2 separate regions of the Homo sapiens genome follow, and region 1 is linked to region 2. Evidence: fine-mapped QTL for protein levels in blood plasma. A gene starts in region 2. The other region holds a variant in brackets. All regions are shown on one strand. Distances are from middle to middle. Region 1 holds the start of NCOA1 (nuclear receptor coactivator 1). Region 2 holds the start of PTRHD1 (peptidyl-tRNA hydrolase domain containing 1).

The links. PIP is the posterior inclusion probability: the model's chance that the variant is causal. Protein levels are from antibody-based Olink assays in UK Biobank. Linkage for the fine-mapping came from a reference panel and not from the study's own genotypes, which makes the PIPs less certain.
Region 1: its variant is fine-mapped to the plasma level of the PTRHD1 protein (UK Biobank, PIP above 0.99).

The regions. Positions count from the first base shown.
Region 1 is chr2:24,485,166-24,497,323 of GRCh38, reverse strand. It overlaps NCOA1 (nuclear receptor coactivator 1), which reads right to left and starts at 6,070. Exons shown (of 23, transcript NM_003743.5): 1 at 5,722-6,070. RefSeq lists silencers at 5,298-5,787, 5,942-6,100, 6,078-6,417. The variant C/A (reference allele first, on the strand shown) is at 5,211.
Region 2 is chr2:24,785,652-24,797,251 of GRCh38, reverse strand. PTRHD1 (peptidyl-tRNA hydrolase domain containing 1) reads left to right here and starts at 3,861. Exons shown (of 2, transcript NM_001013663.2): 1 at 3,861-4,126; 2 at 6,671-7,524. The coding sequence starts at 3,875. The coding sequence ends at 6,841. CENPO (centromere protein O) reads right to left here and starts at 3,827. Exons shown (of 8, transcript NM_001322101.2): 1 at 3,751-3,827; 2 at 3,287-3,400. The coding sequence starts at 3,332. LOC105369164 (a long non-coding RNA gene) reads left to right here and starts at 4,177. Exons shown (of 3, transcript XR_939843.4): 1 at 4,177-4,485; 2 at 4,668-4,868; 3 at 5,473-6,660. RefSeq lists an enhancer at 3,771-4,200 and a silencer at 5,962-6,041.

The sequences.
Region 1 (12,158 bases), 300 kb after region 2:
AGACTGCAGGAGTCTCCACAACACAGGTATTCAAGAGAAAGAAAGTCCAGAAAGAAAAAAAAAAAAGTATAATGTGGCCAAGTGTGACGAACATGCTTGAAGAGAAGCCAATTGAAAGGTATGAATATGATTTCCACTCAGTAGGCTTGAACTCAAATGTCATCCCTAACACCTATAAGCTGTGCAATCTTACGCCAGCCACTTAACTTCCCTGAGCCTTGTTTCCTCATTTATAAAATGTAATATGTAGAGCTAGCACAGTACCTGGCTCAGAGACAACACTCAATAAATATTTGCTGACTATGAATGAGGGCCTTACAAGAAAAGCAGACGTTTTTCTACAGGTACTTTTGTAGTTTTTGAGAAAACGGTCTTAATTAATTCCTAATTAATACCTTTTTACAATATTTGAGAGTCATATTTTGGTCAAAAAATAAAAATGCTCCTTTCCTCCTAGCTTACACATTACTCAAAAGCTTACAGGAATTCTTATTATTTAAAATATCTTTGTAATATTGTAACTTTAAATACAAAAAGTAACTCTCATAAAGAAACCCTATTCCCAACTACATCTGCATGGACTTAGTCTGCTCAGCTGTAATATTAAGAAGGCTGTCCTAAATGATCATTTAAGGCTCTTTAACTCTAAATGTTGTAGTTCCTGGCATCTCAAGCGTTTTCCAATCTGTTTAGGAAAACCAATCAACACACACTAAAAAGAGAATCTCTCTCAAAAGAAAGAGAGAGAAAGAGAAGTTTATTATACAGAACAGAGTACCTAATGCTAAGGGAGTGATAAAAATCAAGCTTTCTTGAAAACATACCAGCTTTGATGCTGTTTTTGAAGGTCACGAGAACATAAAGGAAATCCAATTTAAATGAAGAAAATGGAACATGTAAAAGCAAAGACGCAAGATATCTATGATTATCATAATACTTTCTTCATTGCGTAGCACTTTACAGTTTGCGAAGTATTTCTGCATATGCCATCTACAGCAAATTTTCTGGAATGGGAAATGAAAGAATCAGTTTAAATGATTTACATTTGATAAATTTGCCCACAGAAAATCTCCTCTGAAAACAATAACATAAAAAAATTTTTTTAGAAGGGAATTTCTTCAGCATTATGTGTAGGACAAATTAGAGAGGTAAATGCATGCAAGCAAACAGCTATAAACCTACAAATCACAGAATTTTAAAACAAGAAGAAATGTGAAATTAGACCAACATGCTCATTTAATGATAAAGAAACTCAGGCCCACAGAGTCAATGTGACTCCCATTACTCCATGTGCAAATGACAGGAGGACCAGATTGCAGAACCAGAAATAAAGGAAAAAATTTGAGAAATTACAAAGAAAAGAATGCGAGAATTTGGTGATGAATTCGCTAATGAAATACCTGTTAGTCATTAATGTCTATGTGCCAATCATATGCTAAACACATTTAATAATTTTAAAGATTACAATATGAGGACAAGTACGTTACTCCAATTTTAAATATAAAAACTGAAGTTTAGTGTGGTTAAACAGCTCAAGGCTACATCAACCTAAGTATCTGGAAGAGCTAGGACACCTCTGTCTGTCTGGTCAGAGTTTCTTTTCTAAAAGATGCTTTAAAATTGCCCCACAATTATAAGCTGAAAGGGCAAAAATGAAGCATCACTCTGGAAAAACTGGATAATCCAGTACAATTAGAATTCTGGTCCTGATAATGGGTGCGTTTTGCTTCCGTGCTTGCACCTATTTTTATGAGTCTGGCCTGTCTGTGCCTAATGGTCAGGTCAGGGCTACTCAGTAAAACCAAACATCCCTGCCCTCCACACACTAAAACATACTCTCGGGGAGTGGTAAGAACAAAATATATCCAAGATGAGGGTGAGTCTTCCATAACTCCTCGAGTGACTAGAGCTTCTATTTTGGCATAAGCTACTTATCTTTTAAATATGATAACCATACTAAGCTTTTCTAAAAGCCTATCACTCCAAGGAGCCTCAAAAATTCTGTGTTGCAGATGGGGTTATGGGGGAAGAAGCATGGATACAACTCACTTTACTTAAACTTATGGAATTGGACTTATATGTTGGTATCAGCGTTTTATAATAATTTCCCTTATTCAGCCATGTATCCTGCAGAAATATATAATAATCATTTCTATACATTAATCCAAATACTATAGCCCACAAACCATTTTCCAGAACTAAGCTATTAAAAAAAAAAAACAAAAAAAAAACACCTTCATCTCCTTATGAAATGAAGCAACCAACATTGGTACCTAGTTGCCACTAGGCCATTTTATGACCTCTGACACCAAATGTTGAAAGGCACAAGGTCTAACTAAAATATAAAGAGAAAAGGAAAGGTTTTAAATGACTAGACCTCATCTTCAATGTTAAGAATAGAACATGAGGCCTATCCTTAGTTGCCAATCACCAACGGCTAAACTACTGCTAATCTGGGAAAGAAGCAATTTTAAAAAGTCCTTTCCTACAGTCTAGTCTTCCCAAATGGGTAGGAAAGTTAATCTAAGATAGGGAGAAATTTATACGGTTCTGCAGCCCAGATCAGATACAGTGTTCTGACATCCACCTCCTGAAACACATGGATTTCACCCGAGCCCACACCGACCACAGCATCCAATATTTGCAAGTAATGCAAAATGGAACCCTCCAAAACATTTTTGGACCTCTGCCAGGAAAGCAGCTGATGGTCCTCTGAGAATTTCTGTTATAATCATATTTAAAAGGCAAAAACCAATGCCAAAACAATCATGAGCGTCCCGGGGATCTCCTATGCTCCATGACTTAGATTTTACTCCGTGTTGTGCGTTGTATTGACCTCCCACACCTGCCCTATAATGAAAACTATGTTAAGCCACATGGCTTAAGGCCAGCCAACTCCATAAGATATGCAACATAACATTCAAACAATGTGGAGTCCTTGGGAGACGCAGCAAAAAAGACAAACTAAAGTACGGAACAGAGGTAGTATCTAAGAGGAGGTATATGAAATTGATGACAACCAAGCAGGGAGAACTAAAACATCCTTGAAAAACAATTATAAATCACAGTCTAGTATACAGATTCCCTATACAGAATTGGGGAAAAGAATTTCAAGAAAATGCCCAATACCCTCTCTCCACCACTCCACCTTTCAGCACCTCTATACCACCCTCATCACTTACTCAACATTTAGTCCTAGTGAAGACCGCTCACTGGATTAGCAGGATCAAGAAGACATGCACAGAACATTCCATTCTGAGAACAACATCTTTAAATTATTTAGGCTTGTTTACCACCCTTCCCTATAGAGTAAAAGCATGAAATGTTGCCAGCACTTTCACAATATACACCAGTTAGCACCATAGCAACCCAATCTTCTGCCCACCAAAAGATTAACACATAAGCAGAAAACAGGAAATTCAACAAAAATTAAAGTTTGACCTTAGACTCCCTCAACAGTTAAATGTCTTAAGTAGTAGCAGTGTCTTTACATCACACCCGCTTCATGCTACCCTTACAGCTTCCTGGCATAAGCAAGTTCTTGGGATTATACAAACTGCTGCTTCTGTTTGCAGCCCAGATTTCTAGAAATGAAACCCTGGAATTGAGGGAGAAACAAAAACAAATGTTCGCAGAAAGAGGCAGGAAGAAGCATTGTCTATATAATCCTAGTTTAAGTGAAACAATCACCATTAGCTCCATCAAGCACTTTTTTTTTTTTTCCAATAAAACCACTGCAGATCTAAAATACTCTCTTGGTTTAAACCACACAAAAAGCAATTTAATAGGCACAATCCTACAGGTTTTCTGAGAGAAATAAGGAAGAGATCAAGTGTAAGCTACGTAAAATTCACGTTTTGCACCTTATAAAGCAAACTTCAATGTTGTTAAATAACCAGTAGAAAATATCTACAAAAATCAAACTAAACACCTGTTCTTATAAGCAGCAGTCCTCTATTTTCTCTCTAAACCATATATTCCCAACTCAGACCCTCTCTGTGACCCACTGTTCCCAAAGCATAGAGTCTGAAGAAGAAATATAAAACATTTCGGACATTCGTTCACAAAACCAAATTAGACCTTTCCACAAAGTACAGGAGATAAAACAGAAACACTTCCATTTTATCTAATTTATGGCAAATAGTTCAAGGAATGCCTATTTGTTAAGCTGAATCAAACCCCACTGCTACCTTTAACCCAAAACTATTTCTAGTTGAAGATCCAAGAGACCTAAGCAAATACTTTCTTTTCACATTATTCTCAACATGAAGAAATCCGACCCCCTTCCTACAACATCATAGGAGGCCCCTCTGGCCAACTTTCGTTGTTATTGTTGTTGTTTTGTTTGCTTTTTTTTTGAGACTAGCCTCCAACCAATTCCAGAAGAGGAGACAAACCTCAAACAAATTTAACCCTTGAGATCCATCCCTCAACTGTATCATATAATCTACGCTTCACGGCAGTAATGTTTTAAGCAGACACTTGATTTCTTAATCACTGAAATGTAAGCACCAGCCCTCACAAATCATCGCCACAGAGATTCCTCTTGGCATCCACAGAGGGTGCTGGGACTGCAATTCACTCAAGAACCCTTTACTCACCAACATCACACTCGACATTAAAAACTCACCGTCTCCGAAGAAAAAATGTCACCTTCTGCACAAGGACACCTGCCTGTTCAACACCTCTACAAGAAACGAGGAGGGCCAAGCATGAGAGGCTAACAGATCCTCCAGCTTAAAGTTTTCCTCCCCATGAAACTCTCCGGACACAACACCGTGGCCTGTCCTTGTCACACACACACAGGCTGTATTGTCAACCCCTCCGTCTCCCTCTAACGTCGTCAGACTGGGCAGTGTCTACCCATGGGGGTAACTGCTTTTAAATAAAATAAAAAAGCAGCCACCACAGCTGGGTAGTAAGGACTGGAGACCCTGGGTGTCCGATTTTTTCAGGTCTTTTACAAGGGACTAGAGAGCGGCCCGAATTCTGTCACTGCCCACTAACCAACCCCACCTCCCAATCGCCTCGTCAACATGTTTGCTTCCCTTCCTCGGCCCTTTCGGCTGAATCCCAGGAAGGGGACCAAACCCGGGCCGCGACAGGAACATGTCCAGTATCCATCCCATGTCTACCTCCGAAACCCCTTCTCGGGAGAAGGGGCGAGCAAGCGCGCCGGGGTCAAACCCAAGCGCCGTCGAGGGCTGCGC[C/A]GACGGAGAGGGACGCCGCGGTCGCCCCCATTTCGCGGTCCCGGCAGGCGAGATTCCGAGAGGTGAGCGGGCCGGCCAAGGTCACGGCGTCGTCGGGGCCGAGGGGCGCCCGCGCCGACTTCCGGCTCCCCCTCTCGGCGGCGGCCCGGGGCGCCCGCTCCCCACGCCGGGCAGGCGGCCGCGCAGCTCGCACCCCCTCCGCGGATGCTCGCCCTCTCCGCGCTAACTAGGGCAACTGGAAAAGAGGCGGAGAGAAGTCGCTGCTGCAGCGATTTCCCCCGGCGGGGAGCAGCCCCCAGCTGGTGCCCGTGACAGCTGCGACCTCCGCCCCCTCCAGCCGCGCCGGGCCGCGAGGGGAACTCGGGGAAGTGGGAGGAGGATGGAGCGGGAGAAAGGAGAGCAGGGGGCGGAGGGGCGCCAGCTGCTCCCCGCCCCCTAGGGCCTCCGCGGCCGCGCGGCTCGTGACAGCTGCACCCACCGGGAGGCTCCGCACCCGCAGCCCGCCACTCACCTGCCGCCGCCGCCTCTGGGCCCCGCTCACCGGCGCCGCACTCGTCCGCGACCGTGGCGGCGGCGCCGCCCCGGCCTCCGCCGCTCCTCGGGCCCGGCGCCGCGGCTCTCCGGCCCCCTCCTCCGGAGCAGGGGTCCCCCCGCAGGGGGATGCAGAGGGAACCTGACGCAGGCTCCGCTCGAGGGAGCAGCAGCGAACAGGCGGCGGAGGCCCTCAAGGCCGCGAGGCAGCCGTCGGAGGACAGAGCTCAGCAAATCGCGTCAGACTCCCGCTCGCCCGGCCTGAAGAACAGGCATTTCAGCCGCTCTCCGCGGCCGCCATGTTCTCCTCCTCGGCCGCCACCGCCGCCGCCGCCACCGCCCCCCGCTCGCGGCACCGCCCCCTTCGCGCCCCGCCCCGCCCCGCCCGTTCCCGGCCGCCCGCCTGCCCGCCCGCCGCACTTCCCCTGCCGGCTCCGGCCGCCCGGGCCGCCGCGACCCGGTGCCCGCGAGCTCCGACAGTGCGCCCGGGACAGCGCGCCCCCAGCCCGCCGGGCCTGCCGGGCCCGCCGAGCGAGGAACCGCCCCGCGCCCTCTGCCGGCCCGCCCCAGCCGGCGTCCTAACGAAGTGTGGGAAAGGAGGCCCGAACTCTTCCCCGCCCGTCTCAACTCCTCCCCGCCCCTCTCCTGCCCTCCCCTCGGGGCGTTCCTCCCACTGCTGCCGGGAAGCGGCCTCGAACACCAGGGCGCTCGCAGCTAGGCCGCCGGGCCTGCCGCCTCCCGCTGTTCTTTATCTTTCTGGGAAGGTGTCGGAGCGGCGAGAGGCCCTGCGGACGGGGCGGAGTCGGCTCCGGGCCTGTCCCTCCACTCGGGCGTTCTGTTACTTTGAGCGAGACATATCCCGCGGGCCTCGTTTTTTATTCTGTAAAATTGGGAGGTGGTTGCCTAGATGATTTCACAGGCTATTAGACAAGAGAAAAGGAAGATCGTCTGCCCCCTTCGTTTTACAGATGAAAAGATCTGCCTGACCCGTTCTGGCTCTGCAATTCCATGAATTATCTAAAATGTCTGTCATTCACAGATCTTTCCCCTCAAGGGGCCCACACCTTTCTTCTTATCTCCCTTTTCTTTTTTTTTTTTTTTTAACTTCTCTAATAGAAGTGCTACTTCCAAAAGTAGAGTGTTCTTGTCACCAGAGGAATCGAACAGCGGCTGAACAGCCTCTCTGAGCTGCGATGGCCTTATCTGGACCGCATCCCGCATTCCAAAGGCTGGCAATGCAATATATACCTATGTCTCTCCCTGGGTTGTCCTAAGCATGAATGAGTCACTCGCCGTGGAAGTGCCTTGTAAAGCATACATCTGTCCATTCCTTTCTTTTATTCTTACCCCATTTCGCACTCTTACCCTTCCTCAATCCTGTCCTGCTGCTGCTGTCTCCCGGCGTTTCCTGCTGTTTCGCTTCCTGTGTGTTCTCCCCTAAATCAATCTCTGTAAATCCTTAAGCCCTTCCCACCCTTCTCCCAACTGGGGAACCTGACAGCCTTGAAAACACCAATCTCCGTGGCAGCTCTCTGAGTCGACGGGCAGCTTCTTTCACAGGCAGGTACTACTGTATGCTTTCACCATCCTCTTCCTATCCTTGTCACGCTCATAAAGTAATCGCTAGACCACACCCCCACATGCATTCATATATTCATTCATTTATATATTCATTCCCCTGATTCTTATCGGAGACCTACTACTGGGGCCCTAGGTGCATCTCCTGAGCTCTGGCTTAGCAGTACCTCTAGCCACCCGCAGAGTCCCTATCCCCAATAATAGCTGAAAATACCCGGGCACTCATGAGTTTCGTCCCCTAATGTAGGGCCTACTTCCCAATCTAGTCCAATGCAGACTGTGTGAAAGTGCCTTGTTCTAGCCTCTGGTGCCAACAAATGAGCCACTTGTGCAAGGTACTCCTGTCTCCACTAGACTCTAGTAAGTGCTGAAGGCCAAATCTAGTGGCCACTTCAGTCCTACTGTCGTGTGGCCTTTCTACAGCACGTGATACTGCTAACTCCTCCTTTTTGAAACTCTCCTCCCTTGTCTTCAATATGAGTCTCTCTACCTGATTTCTGAACTTGCCTTCGTTTGCACTTTTCTTGGGCTGCTCCTTTTTTACGGGGCCATAAAAAATGTTGGTATCCTCAAGGTTTTATTTTTTTCCTTCCTTTCCTCTGGCTTCGGTTGACTGTTTATTTCCACAGCTTCAACTGTTAACAAAACAACTCCTGAATTTCCTTCTTCCAATCTCCCACTCTGCAGCCCGGGGTCGTAATTAACTTTAAAATATCCTCAAGACACACAGTGCTAAGATTTTGTTGAATGACAAATTATTTAGGTGTTAATTTATATTGCCATAACCATCCATGTATGCTAAAGAGAGAGTTCTTTTCTAGAATGGTACTGTTTCTTTTTTGTTGTTGTTGAAACAGAGTCTCGCTCTTGTCGCCCAGGCTGGAGTGCAGTGGCGCGATCTCAGCTCACTGCAGCCTCTGCCTCCTGGGTTCAAGTGATTCTCCTGCCTCAGCCTCCCGAGTAGCTGGGATTACAGGCACCCGCCACCACGCCCGGCTAATTTTTTGTATTTTTAGTAGAGACAGGGTTTCGCCGTGTTGGCCAGGCTGGTCTTGAACTCCTGACCTCAGGTTATCCACCAGCCTCGGCCTCCCAAAGTGCTGGGATTACAGTCATGAGCCACTGCGCCTGGTAATGTTTCTTAAATAATAACTCTTTGACTTTTTTCTCCTTCCTCTACAAGTCATAATCACTTGTCAAAGCAGTTATAACACCCTTTTATGTCTCCAATTGGTAATCTTTTCTCTGGTCATACTCAACTTCTCTCAGACTCCATCTACTTTTACTAAACAGGCCCATTTTACTAATCCACCCGAGCAACCCTAAATATAGGGCCAAAAGATTCATTAGATTTACTTCGTGACTGTACAAGTAGCCTCTCTAAAATCCATTTACCTTAGCTATTTAAAATTTATTTACTCCCAAAATACAATGCCAATCAACAAGGAAGACTAACTCCAATTAAATGAAAATGCTTTGAAGATATTTATAAATAAAAATGTAAGACAACATTTAACTCTTATAGCCCAGATAGAACTGGTTTTAGTCCAAACCCTATTGTTTCCATAAATTAATATAATCCTTTGGTGGACTAGAAACAGCCTAGTTCTACGGGCAAAATCTAGAACATACCTGTTGGATTTTCTCCAGAGCATAATAGATTTCCAGTTCTATAAAATATATGGCTAGTGTGCATGAAATTACTCCAGTTACTGAGGCAAGAATTGATTTAACTTTGACATTCTTTTTTTCAAATAGTTTTTTGTTTTATAATAATTGATACAGACTCACAAAATATTCAGTCAATAAAGAACAGCACAAAAAGTTTAAAAATAAACTTTTTCAAGCCAGAGAGAAACATAGTAAACATGTTTCCACACCTTTCTCTATATATATTTGCACATATAAATACACTATATGTAGTCAATTTTACATAAAAATAAAATCACGCCTGTAATCCCAGCACTTTGGGAGGCCGAGACAGGCGAATCACCTGAGGTCAGGAGTTCAAGACCAGCCTGGCCAACATTGTGAAACTCTGTCTCTACTCAGTGTGGTGGTGGGTGCCTGTAATCCCAGCTACTCAGGAGGCTGAGGCAGGAGAATCATTTGAACCCAGGAGGCAGAAGCTGCAGTGAGCCAAGATCGCCTCACTGCACTCCAGCCTGGGCAACAGAGTGAGACTCCATCTCAAAAAAATAAAATAAATAAAATAAAATCACATGATAAATGCTCATCAGTAATCTGGTGCCTTTTACTGTACAATGTATTTTCATCCTAATAGTTAAATACTCTTGCATTGTGTATCTGTTTAGCCATTTAATTCCTTACTAAAAATGTTTACATTGTCTGTATTTTTGTTTGTATATTTTTGTAAATCATGCTGTAATTCTAATGCATGCCTCCGTGCAGTTTAGAAATTATTTTCTTTAAATTTCTAGAAGATTAATTGTTGGCTCAAAGGGTACATGTTAATTTTTTTACTACATTATTTACCAAACTGGCCTCCAGAAAATTGTTTCAATCTGTGGTCCTAGCCATAGTGCATGAGCCTGCCACTTGCCCATAACCAGCTCTGTATTTTACCCATTTCACTTTGAATAATCTTTAATTTCTACATCTGCTTAAAGGATAGAGGTTAAGAAGACTAGGTTTAGAGTTAGGGAGACCCAGGTTTGAAATGGGTTTGTCACTTACTAGCTGTATGAAACCTGGGCCAAACCACTTCAACATCTCCAAGACTCAGTGTCCCCATCTGTAAAATAGGATGCTAGCACTTGCCTCAAAGGATTGTTGCTAAGATTAAATGAAATAATGTATGTAAAGCACTCAATACAGTATTTGACATTTAGGATTGCCCATGAGAAAGTAAATATTAGCTCACACTGAGAAGGTAAAAAATCAGCTCAACTGTTCATCAGGCTAGAAAAATAGGCACAGATAAAGTCAGCTGCAAAGTTAACAGGATGCAATGTCTCCTAAGGACGTGCTGCAGCTGTAAAGTATCATAATAACCCCCTTCTTCAAGTGACTACAGCTTTCCTACTCACTCAGAAACATTGTTCTCTAAAACCATAGACATCACAAACTTTGGTGTTGGCAATTATATCAGTAAAAATGAAGCAGCCCCAATTTACGACCCAGGTGCAGTGCTTTGGGTGGGGGGTTTCTGGACATAGCATTGTATACCTATCTTAACTTTATTGTTTCCGAACAACACAATTCTCAGTCTACTTTGCAGTCCAGGCTGGACATTGACCCCTTTACACACAGCTAAGATTTACTTTGAGTCTATCAAAATTCTGCTGTATTTAAACTGTATCTTGGCTCTGCTAAAGGTTACTATCTTCCAGCATGTGTTATTAAGTAGAAGTACGTATTACATATTCATAGAGTTCCATTTGGAGCATCTTATAAATTTCTTTTTAACAATTAAAAAATGATATTTGTGAAGTTAGCTACAGTTAAGCAAATTGAATGGTTTTTGCCTCCATGTGAAACTGGTCTGGGATTAAGTTTCTTAGAGTTTCTCTCAGTTCTAGTACCCTTCTAAACAGTTATTTGAGTGATAAAACTTATTGCCCAGGAAGCTGGGGTTTTTTCGTTTGTTTGTTTTTGAGACTGAGTCTCACTCTGTCACCGAGGCTGGAGTACAGTGGCACGACCTTGGCTCACTGCAACCTCCGCTTCCCAGGTTCAAGCTATTCTCCTGCTTCAGTCTCCCTAGTAGCTGGGATTACAGGCGCCTGCCACCATGCCCAGCTAATTTTTGTATTTTTAGTAGAGACAGAGTTTCACCATGTTGGCCAGGCTGGTCTCGAACTCCTGACCTCAAGTGATCCACCCACCTCAGCCTCCCAAAATACTGGGATTACAGGCATGAGCCACCGCACCCAGCCTGATTTTTAAAAGTCAAATAAAAAATACTATGTCAGTGTTCCATTATCAAAAAATAGGATCTCTGATCTCTTCAGCAGATCTTGTTGATTAGTTACTATAACTTTATTTCCATACATTATGCAGCAGTTATTTTTTAGAATATTCTTAGATTCTATGTTAGTTAATTCACTTTTCAGAACTAACTACTTAGCAATATTATCTTGCTTCAGGCTTGGTGGTGAATTCTCCAGTGTTATATTCAGTTCCAAGAAAGATGTTTGAACATGTTCACACCTATTGGGTCTTGGACCCAATAGCAAGGTAGGTGTGAACATGTGCAAGTATTAGTCTTCCTTTCCTGAATGACCACTTCACATCTTTTAGTTTCGACAACTGTCTTGTTTCTCCTAAGGTGTATATTATTCATGCACATTAATCTTAACTAAGAAGATTAAGGTACCATAAAATTTCTTTGTTTTTTAGATCTAAATTTTTGAGATTATATTCTTTATGATGGACATTTTGGTTATTTTAAATCTTTCACTATTAAAAGCACACTGCAATGAATGCTTTCCTCGCACCCTCCTGAGATTAAAAGATAATCTATTTTCTGAGTATTAATGGCGTAAAACACAGGCATGCCTCCCTAACATATGTAGGCTTCAATCAGACTTGCTATAGCAGCTGCATCTCAGTTTTGAAGTCTGGATACCAAAGCCAGTTGTACACGTAGGAGGATTGGATTGGCAGTGGCCTGTGTTGTGTGCTTTGAGAGATGCCAGACATATCCCCACCCCCAAGCTTACCATAGTGCCTACAATTTCAACAACAAAGATTCATTCCTTTGGGTTTATAATTTGCTATCTCAGGGTAATCCTTTAAACAAATCATTCCTCCCTAATTATGGTTATTGTAGAAAATTGAGAACATACAGAGAAGTTAATAAATGAAAATAGAAAT
Region 2 (11,600 bases):
TAAACCAGTACTTTCTTCCTCACACCTTCTCCCTGACCCAGTCCCAATCCATTACCAGATCCTATTGAATATACATTCCTAGTATCTCTAAAATATTTCCATTTTCCCCATCTGCAATGCCACCATTGTAGTTCAAGCTACTACCATTTCTGGCCTATTACAAGTTTCCTAGGTGGCCCATACACTGAAGCCATATTTCAAAATCTAAACTGGATCGTGTCATCCAGCTGGCTAAAGCCTTTCGATGACTTCACACTGCCTACGAGGCCTACTGGCCTCTGGATCTCTCTTACCCTCATCAGTATCATGCTGCTCCTTCTCTAGGCATTTCCACACAGGCCTCCTCTCAGGCTCTCAAACCCGCCCAGCGTCTTTACTGACCTGATCCCCCCACCCCCAACACACACACCAAAGGCTCTTCCACAGCCGCCCCTTATCCACCTTCACCTGCAGCTACTCTAGCTCGTTAGCACTCAATGCAAGCAGCATTTCCTCAGGGAAACCTTTGTAGCACCTTCAGAACAAGGTCAGGTGCCAGCTCATAAGCTCTCAAAGATCCTTCTGAGACAATACTATAGTTTTTTTGTTTTTGTTTTTTAAATAAAGAGATGGGGTCTCACTATGTTTCCCAGGCTGGTCTCAAACTCCTAAGCTCAAGCGATCCTCCCACCTCGGCTTCCCAAAGTGCTAGGATTACAGGCGTGAGCCACCGCACCCGGCCACTATAGTTTTAATTGTATATTCATTAGTGTGATTATTTGATTTGCTTATCTTTTCCACTGAACCTTAAAGTTCCAAAATCAGGGACCGTGTGCATTTGTGTTCACCCATGGATCCCTTAACCCTAGCACAAAGTGTTTACACATGGTAAACACTCCGGAAATGGTTATTTTTTTCTGAGACGAAATCTCACTCTGTTGCCCAAGCTGGAGTGCAGTGGCGCGATCTCAGCTCACTGCAACCTCTACCTCCCAGGTTCAAGCAATTCTCCTGCTTCAGCCTCCCAATTAGCTGGGACTACAGGCATGCACCACGATGCCCGGCTAATTTTTGTATTTTTAGTAGAGATGGGGTTTCACTATGTTAGCCAGACTGGTCTTGAACTCCTGACCTTGTGATCCACCCGCTTTGGCCTCCCAAAGTGCTGGGATTACAGGTGTGAGCCACCGCGCCCGGCCAACACTCCGGAAATGTTTACCGAAACACGGACAACCAGGCATGACACTCTTGGAGATTACATTCACTTGGCTCATGTCCACAGAAAAACCCACATTACCGCAATAATAATCGTGAGAAACCAAAATTCTAATTAAATAAATTAGTCCTAATAATTAGCACGTGATTAACTGCTTTATTCACCAATCTCTATTTATCCAACAACTATGCATTGAGAATTTACTATGGACCAAGGACCGTGCTGGAAGTTATTCATACTGTGGTGGCAAAACGAAGTCCCTGTCCTCACGGAGCTTACAAAAATTAATGTCCAACCAGGAGGTGATCTGAAAAGCACGCACACATAGAATAATTTAGGGTGGTAGAGGAGACGCCTCACCAAATTCTACTTTATGGAAATTCTATATTACTAAAACAGTAGATATCAATATTCCCAAAGTTTCTGAGATAAGTAGGTGTTCAAAACAGTATCATGCTGCTCCTTCTCTAGGCACTTCCACACAGCCCTCTTCTCAGGCTCTCAAACCTGCCCAGCTTCTTTACCGACCTGATTCCCTCTACACCAAGGGGGTAGCGTTGTTGTTTAGCGTTGCTACTACAGAAAAGAGGGAGTGTATCTGCTGGGCCTGCTTTACCTTGGAAGTTATGATTGCATCTCATCCTAGCCAGTCAGCTTTGTCCCAAAAAAAGTCAAAATCCCTGCCTATTTGAATAAATCATCTGGTTGCAACTACAACTCCATGTCCTTCCTTCTCAAATGAGTGGGGAGAATTCAAATAATAAGCAAAAAACTGAAATCAAACAAGCAGAGGGATAAAACCAGTATGGGTAACAGCTAAGTGTTTAAATATTGTTTTGGGTAGAGAATAAGGAGACTGGTCTAAGTCTCTTGATAATCCAAAACTTCCACCTCATCACTTACTTTAACAGAAATGAAATAAGGCCTGGACTAGAGAACAGGTTACTCCTGAGTGTAGCATGTTTCCACTACATAAAGTCACCAAACTTATTTTTAGTCTTAAAGTAACAATAAATCTTACCCCATATACTTTTATTATCTAAAGTCTCAGCTTAAGTCATCTTAGGCTGAATATAGTTACTTCTCTGTTATCAATGATAATGATGACCCAGAGAAAAATAGGATAACCAAATTCACTGACGCGCTCAGAAATTCTTTTTAAAACTGTAATTTAAGTTAGGTTTTATGGCAAGCTTTCCCAAAGTACTAACGTAGAACCCTTTGGATTTAGGCATCAGGCTTGAGTAAGTATTTCAAAGTTCTAAAAAGTATTAGTAGCAAAGAACATAAAGTCACACAAAACCAGAACTGTCCACAAATATTACTAGGCACTAAAGAAGAAAGCAACTTACTCCTGGACAGAAATTCAAACGCAAATCTCAGTTTCCAAAGGATTGACTAAGGACTAAGTAAAAGTAATAGTTTCGTAATTCTAAGCAACTCTAACAAGCATTCTTTAAACACCTTCTACATTTTAAGACACAAAGTATGTAAAGAATTAAGCCTTTCATTGAATATTTCCTATATATTAGACATGTGCTAAATGCTTCACTTGAAAAGTCTGAGTTCAATACTTTTCCACCACAAAAGAAATACTTTTTCCACAACCACAACTACAGTGCTATTTTCACCTCCATTTTCCAGATGAAGAAACAGAGGCAGAGAATAAAGTGACTTGCCTAAGGTCACAATATTTATCATGGCAGAGCCAACACTCAAAACCAGTTCTAGCCAACACTAAAGTCACTGCCCTACACTGGCCCTCCCTCAAGAGTAATGCATACATGGCCCAAAAAATCCGGGGAGAGGAAAGGGACCTCCCTGGCTAGAACCGCAGTTCAGAATATAAACACTGAGCATATGATGGATGCAACTTATCCGTTTCAAAAGGGGTGGGAGCCTAGAAACGAAGCCATTTTTCCTCCTCGAATAATCTTGGCTGCCTGTCCCTTTGTCTTCAATGTTAGTTCCTTTCACTATTCTGCTCCCAAACAGGCCAGGTCCCACGTCAGTTCCAGGAGGAAAGGGCTCTCTCAGCCTGCGGGTCATCTTTGGGCAGCAGCAGGAAGGAGGCGGCGACCCTCTGAATACCTCCTTTGGACTCGCCATCTGGACGTAAAGGGTTCGCCTGCTCCATCTCAGATTCCCAAGGGCCTTCCCATGAAGTTGTCTAGGCAACCGGTGATAGGGACTCCAATGTCCTTGCTAATAAAAGAAAAATGGCAACAGTCACATCACATCTAGTCCCATTCAAACCCAGACGGCAGGGCACACACCACTCAGGCACAACCCCTGGGCCGCGGATGACACAAATGTCACGGCTAGGATCCCCTTTCCTGAGCCGCCCGCCCTCTCCCATCGTCCGAGCCAGCAGAGTCCATGCCCACCCCCGCGCCCATCCCGCGGCCCCGGCGCGCTCCCGAGGCCACGGCTACTCTGGTCCAGCGGGCTTCCCGGCCACGGAAGGAGTTTTAAGAAGGCCGTTCAGCCCGCCACCCTGGCCACGGTCCGGTCCGACAATGGGTCTTTCCCCTACCTTCTCCCTTCTAGCTCACCCAGGCCAGAAGCGAGAATTCCCGCCATCCACGTCTTCAAAACCAAACCAACCGGTCCCGGCGTGCTTTGCGATCCTGCCGTACAAAAGCATGGCGGCGCTCAGGGCCCCGCCCTGATCCCAAGATGCACCGGGGAGTAGGTCCGGCCTTTCGGGTGGTCAGGAAGATGGCGGCCTCTGGGGCGGAGCCGCAGGTCCTGGTACAATACTTGGTGTTACGAAAGGATCTATCACAAGCTCCGTTCTCCTGGCCGGCGGGCGCACTGGTAGCGCAGGCTTGTCACGCGGCCACCGCGGCCTTGCACACTCACCGCGACCACCCGCACACAGCCGCTTACCTCCAAGAGCTGGGGCGCATGCGCAAAGTGGTCCTCGAGGTGAGGCACTCGGGCGGAGGGGGAGGTGCTGAGACATCGAGGGCGGAAGTGGGTGTGGTCTTCGGTCCGAAGGCCTGGCTGCGGGGAGTGGGTGCGGCGGGAGTTGGGGTGATCGTTAACATTTAGACTGGAGCTGTTTCCCTGGAGGTGCGCCCTTGGGAAGGGCCTGACTGTGTGAAGAGTGGACAGCAGTCCTCCGCCCCCTGCTGGGCTCGCGGTAAAGTGGTGGCTCCTGTGTCCCCGCTGTTCCGCCTGTGCACTGGCCGACTTTTTAAAGCCATGCCCCAAAGTGCTGTCCTCCTGCAAAACCGAGCCCGAAGGGACAGTGCAAAGTGAAGTCAAACTGAGTATTTACCTGGGTAGGACGCCAAATTATTTGAAAATAAATACTAAAAACGTTAGTATAAATTGAACCTAGCTTCAGCTAGACCAGGCACCAGGTGTGTAAATCGGTACACCTTTTAAAATAGCAGTCAGGTTCTGTTTGCAGATGACCAAACAAATCTCACCCTTACCCTTTGACTCTCTATCCTGCTGCTAGAGATGTAGCCTAAGAAAATAATCAGATGCACCCAAAGAGCTTTGCACAAGGATATTCATGGGAGCCCTTATGGTTTTGAAGCATATTTAGTGGTCGGGAAGAGTGCTCATGATGCGAAGCTAACTGAACTATATATACAGAATGATCCAGACTTTGAAAGGAAAAACTAAAGAAATACATCTACATATTAAGTAGTGCATGGTGAGATTTTGGTTATTTCCTAATGCTTAATCTGTATTTTTAAAATTTTCTACCTTAAGCACATATTTTATAATAAGGAAAAACGGCTTTAATAATAAACGGCTTTTTATAATAAGGAAAAACGGCTTTAAGCCAGAACTCAGGTGGAGGGGTGGAGTAATCCCTTCATGGGTAACTGACAAAGATAGATTATCTTTCAAGAGAAAAATTGCTGCTGGATAGTGAAACATCAAGCGGTAACCTGTAGGAAAAATGCCTTGAGAATCTGTGTAGGCAGAACAGAAGCTGCTGGCTTTTCACTTAGATTTTCTTCCTAGTAAGAGGTCTCAAGAAATCAGGTTAGACTCCTCTTGTCGCAGGTGAAACTCTCTGAAGCCTACAGGGATTAAGTGACTCCCCTGAGTTTAAAAGAGGGTCTCATGATTCTTAGTTGTTAGTCATGACTCAAGAAAGGGACTTAGGAGTCGCTACTGATTACATTGAGGTGCCGCTGTAGTCAGAAGGGCCAATAAAATATAAGAAAATACCAGGATTAACTACATTTATTGAGTGCTTAGTGTGTGCCAGGCACAGGTCCAAGCCTGATTTCATTGATCCCCATTAGGAAGCATTATTCCTGTTTTATAAAGGGACGAAGAGGCCAGCGAAGTCACCTAACTTATCCACGATCACACAGTCAGCAAGAGTTTGGAGTCCAGTAGTCTGATTCCAGAGCCTCACTGTATCTCACTATGCTCTGCTGCTGCCCGAGGCTGAAGAAGCTGATGAGTCCTCCAGCAGAGCTCTGCCAGAAGGACTCAGCAGGTTAAGAGTCGCAATACTGGCATTCTCTAATTTATTAAAACAAGCCTCTGAGTAGCTTAGTGGCTTCTGCCTTCATAGGTAAGAGATAAACTTTATGCAAAATAACACAAAAATAATAATTTTCTGAGTGATCGTTTTAATACTTCCTGGAATGGGATTCAGCATGGGTGAATTGGCAGTAAGGATGACCCAGAAACAATTTCAGAAGGATGTTAGAGAATATTGTACTCTCCCTTTAATAAACAAGTGGGAGCCATCCCAGCAGAAGGAAAACCCCTCTAGGTTTCAGTGAGGTAGAGTGGGAGGGGTGGAGGAAAGTGGAAGTGGATGTGCTTTTAGAAATCCTTCCACTAGGGGCCGGGCATGGTGGCTCACTCCTGTAATCCTAGCACTTTGGGAGGCTTAGGTGGGTGGATTGCTTGAGGTCAGGAGCTCCAGACCAGCCTGGGCAACATGGTGAAACCCCGTCTCTACTAAAAATACAAAAATTAGCCAGGTGTAGTGGTGTGCGCCTGTAATCCCAGCTACTCGGGAGGCTGAGGCAGGAGAATTGCTTGAACTCGGGAGCCAGAGACTGCAGTGAGCTGATAATCGTGCCACTGCACTCTAGCCCAGGCGACAGAGCAAGACTCTGTCTCAAAAGAAAAAAAAAAAAAAACTTCCACTAGGCAGCTCTTAAAGTCAGAGGCACTTAAAATTATGGGCGCCAGCCATAGGAGAGCTGGAAAATGTATAGAGCAGAATTACACATTACACATGTGTGTGTTGGGCATACAACATCTCACAAGGGAAGATACAAATCTCCATTTTCTAAACTGGAATATGAAGCCTCTCTCCCCTCCCCAGTGCACCACGGAATGACATCATTGCTCTGCAGCTCCCTCCTTGGTAAAGCTGTTACTCCACTTTCAGGCAAGAGGACTCCCGAAACCTTTTTTGGCCTTTTGACACTTCCTAAGTGGGCTATTCAGTTTGTGTTCTGTGTTCTTCTCCTTTAGGCCCCAGATGAGACCACCCTAAAGGAGCTGGCCGAGACCCTGCAACAGAAGAACATTGACCACATGCTGTGGCTTGAGCAACCAGAGAATATCGCCACTTGTATTGCTCTCCGGCCCTACCCCAAGGAAGAAGTGGGCCAGTATTTGAAGAAGTTCCGATTGTTCAAGTAACTGCTGCTTTGATGTGTTTGAATACGCAGGCCACCCATTCCAAAGCATCATGTGTTCCTTGCAGTGTCAGCTTGCTCCCGTCTTTCAGTTGTGACAATTTCTTGAGGGTTAAGCACATGTTCATATTAAAGTTGTCATTAATAACTACTTCCTCTTATTAATAAGTTCAAGTGGGGAAGGTGGGAGAGCAGTATTGTCTGGGGATCATTGCTCAAATAGAAGATTTGGTTAGACTCTCCTGTGGGGCTCAAGGAAACTCCCTTCCAGTCACTCGGGTTTGAAACTTTGCTTTTGAATTCCTTCTTATTCACATCCAGTTATCATATTTCATTGAATCTAAGATAACATCAACTTTAAGATGCGGTAGTATTTTATGTATTGTTAAAAAATATGCCGGCAAATTAAACACTTGTATTTCAATAACAAAGATGTTAAAATTTGGCCAGTGTGGTGGCTCACATCTGTTAATTCCAGGGTTTTGGGAAGCCAAGGCAGGAGGATCGCTTGAGCCCATGAGTTCAAGGTTACAGTCAGTTCTAATCATGCCACCGCACTCCAGCCTGGGCAACAGAGTGAGACACTGTCTCTATAAAGATTAATAACAAGTTAAAATTTGTGTGTGTCTATATATATGTACATACATACAGATTTATTAGATTCAATGAAATCTGTCAAGTACTACAGCTGTTTTCTTGTCATTTCAGTGCCGTTGCCCTGTGTCAGCCTCTCATTTTGCTCACTGGCGTGTCCCACGGTCTGTTCACCGCCAGTGTGACACTCCAATCCAGCAGCTGCTTTGCCACCACATAGGACGACTGAACACCTACCTGTGTAGTCTAGGCTCCTCTCTGCCTATGGAGTAATCCCAGCACTCCTTAGCTTAGACTTCAGGCCCTCCTCATGTGTATTTCCTACCTATCTTTTTTGTTTTTTCGAGATGGAGTCTCTCTCTGTTGCCCAGGCTGGAGTGCAGTGGCGCCATCTCTGCTCACTGCAACCTGCGCCTCCTGGGTTCAAGCCATTCTCCTGCCTCAGCCTCCCGAGTAGCTGGGATTACAGGTGCATGCCACCATAGCTGGCTAATTTTTGTGTTTTTTTAGTAGAGACGGGGTTTCACCATGTTGGCCAAGCTGGTCTCCAATTCCTGACCTCAGGTGATCCGCCAGCCTCGGACTCCCAAAGTGCTGGGATTACAGGTGTGAGCTACCGTGCCCGGCCTCCTACTTATCTTTTTAGTTGAATCTTCTATTCCCTTATTCAAACTTGATGTTTCCACAGAGTCCCTCCAGTTGCTATTCTCCAGTCTCTGGCATGGGAGTTGAATGTTACTACTCCTCCCCTCCCTTTCCTGCCCCTGGACTTTACTTAAACTATTTCCAGCTCAAGTGCTATCACTGCCAAAAATTCTTACCAAGCCAAAAATGATAGTTCCTTCTCTGAACATCTGTAACACTCTGTACAACGTTTACAATATTTCTATAAACATTTGGACACATCTACAGAAATTGCTTAGACATCTGTGAAGCAAAGTTTATAAGGGGTAATTTGTTCAACAGATATCTATTGTTTGTCTGCTGTGGCAGGCTGTGCATAAAACAGTTTTGCCCTCAGGTAGCTAAGAACCTATACGGATATTACCCGTCCCCCTTAGATAATGTTCTGCTAAGATCCCAGATAAGATTTCCCTTCATGGGCCCGGTGCAGTGGCTCATGCCTATAATCCCAGCACTTTGGGAGGCTGAGGTGGGAGGATCACCTGAAGTCAGGAGTTTGAGACCAGCATGACCAACATGGTGAAATCCTGTCTCTACAAAAAAAAAAAAAAAAAAAAAAAAAAAAAAGATTTCCCTTTAAGAAAGGTGGTCACCTGAATCAAGGAGAGTGGATGGGTCTCTCTCACAGGGAGAGTTGGTAGAGTGCTGAGGGCAGAGCCAACCCCAGGAAGCCAAGTGAATGAGGAGTTGAAGGGGTAGAGAACAATCAAGTGCAGCATAGAATGTCAGTAAATAAAACGTGGAAACATTTAGCAATTGGGAATGTACTGGTGAACTTAGTGAAGTTTAAATAGCATAGTGAGGGTAGAAATCAGATTGTAACATGTTGAGACAAGAATGGGAGGCCAGGCGTGGTGGCTCACACCTGTAATCCCAGCACTTTGGGAGGCCAAGGCAGGCGATCACGAGGTCAGGAGTTCGAGACCATCCTGGCCAACATGGTGAAACCCCGTCTCTACTAAAAATACAAAAATTAGCAGGGTGTGGTGGCAGGCGCCTGTAATCCCAGCTACTCGGGAGGCTGAGGCAGAAGAATTGCTTGAACCCGGGAGGCAGGGATTGCAGTGAGTAGAGATCGTGCCACTGCACGCCAGCCTGAGCGACAAGAGCAAAACTCCGTCTCAAAAAAAAAAAAAGAATGGGAGGGGAGGGAGGTAAGAGGTGAGAAGTGTCCTTTCCAGAAGCTTGAAAGGGAGGAGAGAGAGGATAATGACTGAAAAGGGGCTGGAAAGATCAATGCTGGGTCCCCTAGTGGGGATTTTCTTAGATCTTGAGCAGGATGATGGGTGAGGAGGAGAAAGTAAGGAGAGGAGAGATTAAGAGATTAAAGTTCCCAAATAGAATAACTGATGAAGTCCAGAGAAAACAGGAAGAGATGGGGTCAAAGGCTACGGGAAGAACTGGCCTTGAACTGAGAGAGGGGAAACTTCTTTTCTGAGACTGGTGGAAAGGCAGATGGTGAAGATATAGATGTACGTAGGTTTAATAGATTGTAGGAGAAAGAAAGTTGAAGTTGACCATACCTGCTGACTTTTTTTCTATTAAGTAGGAGGCATATGCACTATACTCAGCAAACTAAAGCAGCAACAGAAAACCAAATACCACATGTTCTCACTTGAAAGTGGGAGCTAAATGATGAGAACACATGAACACACAGAGGGGAACAACACACACGGGGACTGATTGGAGGGTGGGAGGAGGGAGTGGATCAGGAAAATAGCCAGTGGGTTCTAGGTTTAATACCTGAGTGATCAAATCTGTACCACAAACCCCCATGACGCAAGTTTACCTATAAAACAAACCTGCACATCCTGCACAGGTACCCCTGAACTTAAAAGTTTAAAAAAGTAGGAGGCATACGATCTTTCATAACACTGAATAAACTTATTGAGCACTATATTAGCTAGCATAACAGTGAGTAGGAGCCTAGGCTTTGGTGTCAAACTGCTTGAGTCCAAATCTGGGTCTCATACTTTCAAGCTCTGTGGACTTGGGCAGTGACTCTATTTCCCTGAGACCCAGTTCCCTTATCCGTAAAGTGGGGATTTAAATGTGTTTGGATGTACAAACCCCTTAGAGCAGTGCCTGGGACTTCGTGCTAGAACCTAAACTTGGGAAGATGCAGATGGCACAGCCGTCAGAGCTGCCCTCCAAGAGTTCTCCATCAAGTAGGCCATTGTCTACCCCTTTCTGTTAGGGAGTGATGCCATCCAGGAATCATCAAGTACCATTTCCATTCAAGCCAATTAGGAAAATGTTTCTAAATGACACTGCATCTTAAAAAAAATTAAGTTCTGAATTCTTCAGTAAGACATAGTATAAAGCTAGACAGGCCAGGTGCGGTGGGTGGCTCACGCCTATAATCCCAGCACTTCAGGAGGCCGAGATGGGCGGATCAAAAGGTCAGGAGTTCGAGACCAGCCTGGCCAACATAATGATACCCCGTCTCTACTAAAAATACAAAAAAATTGCCGGGCGCAGTGGCTCACACCTGTAATCCCAGCACTTTGGGAGGCCGAGGCGGGCGGATCATCTGAGATTGGGAGTTCGAGACCACCCTGACCAACATGGAGAAACCCCGTCTCTACTAAAAATACAAAATTAGCTGGGCGTGGTGGCCTGTAATCCCAGCTGCTCAGGAGACTGAGGCAGGAGAATTGCTTGAACCCAGGAGGTGGAGATTGCGGTGAGCCAGAGATCGCGCCATTGCACTCCAGCCTGGGCAACAAGAGTGAAACTCTGTCTCAAAAAAAAAAAAAGTTAGCCAGGCATGGTGGCACGTGCCTGTAGTCCCAGTTGCTCGGGAGGCTGAGGCAGTAGAATCTCTTGAACCTGGGAGGTGGAGGTTGCAGTGAGTCGAGATCGTACCACTGCACTCCAGCTTGGGCAACAGAGTGAGACTTTGTCTGGGGGTAAAAGAAGCTAGACAGAAATGAGACACAGCTGGGAGTTAGCAGATTTAGGCAAATCCGTAAAGCAGAGATCTGAGCACAAATAGCATAAATGTCTGCCCAAGGGTGGGGAAGAACAGGAACTCATGCGCTGACGCTGAGTGAGAGCAAGACAGCAGCAGGAAAGCAATAGATTTTCTTATTGGTATCAGCTTAAGACCATGATCATTTGAACTAGATCAGTGGCTCTCAAAGCGGTGGTCTGGTCCCTAGATCAGTACCACTTGGGTACTTGTTAGAAATGCAAATTATCAGGCCCCACCCCAGACCCACTGAAGTGGAGGCTCTAGTGCTACCTAGAAACAGCCTGGGCCCTGGAGACAGCCAACCTAAAAGAGGAACAATAAATGTGTGTGGTTTAGAATCAACACATTATGAGAGGGTATTAAGTGCTCACAGGAAGGAGTCAAATAGCAGAAATCTGGCACCAAGTGCACTGTATTTGGCCATGCATACTAAGGTTACAGAAAATTATGATTTCTCCAACAGGGCAAAGATGTGCTGCAAACCCTAGAATAGACGCTATATCCTTGA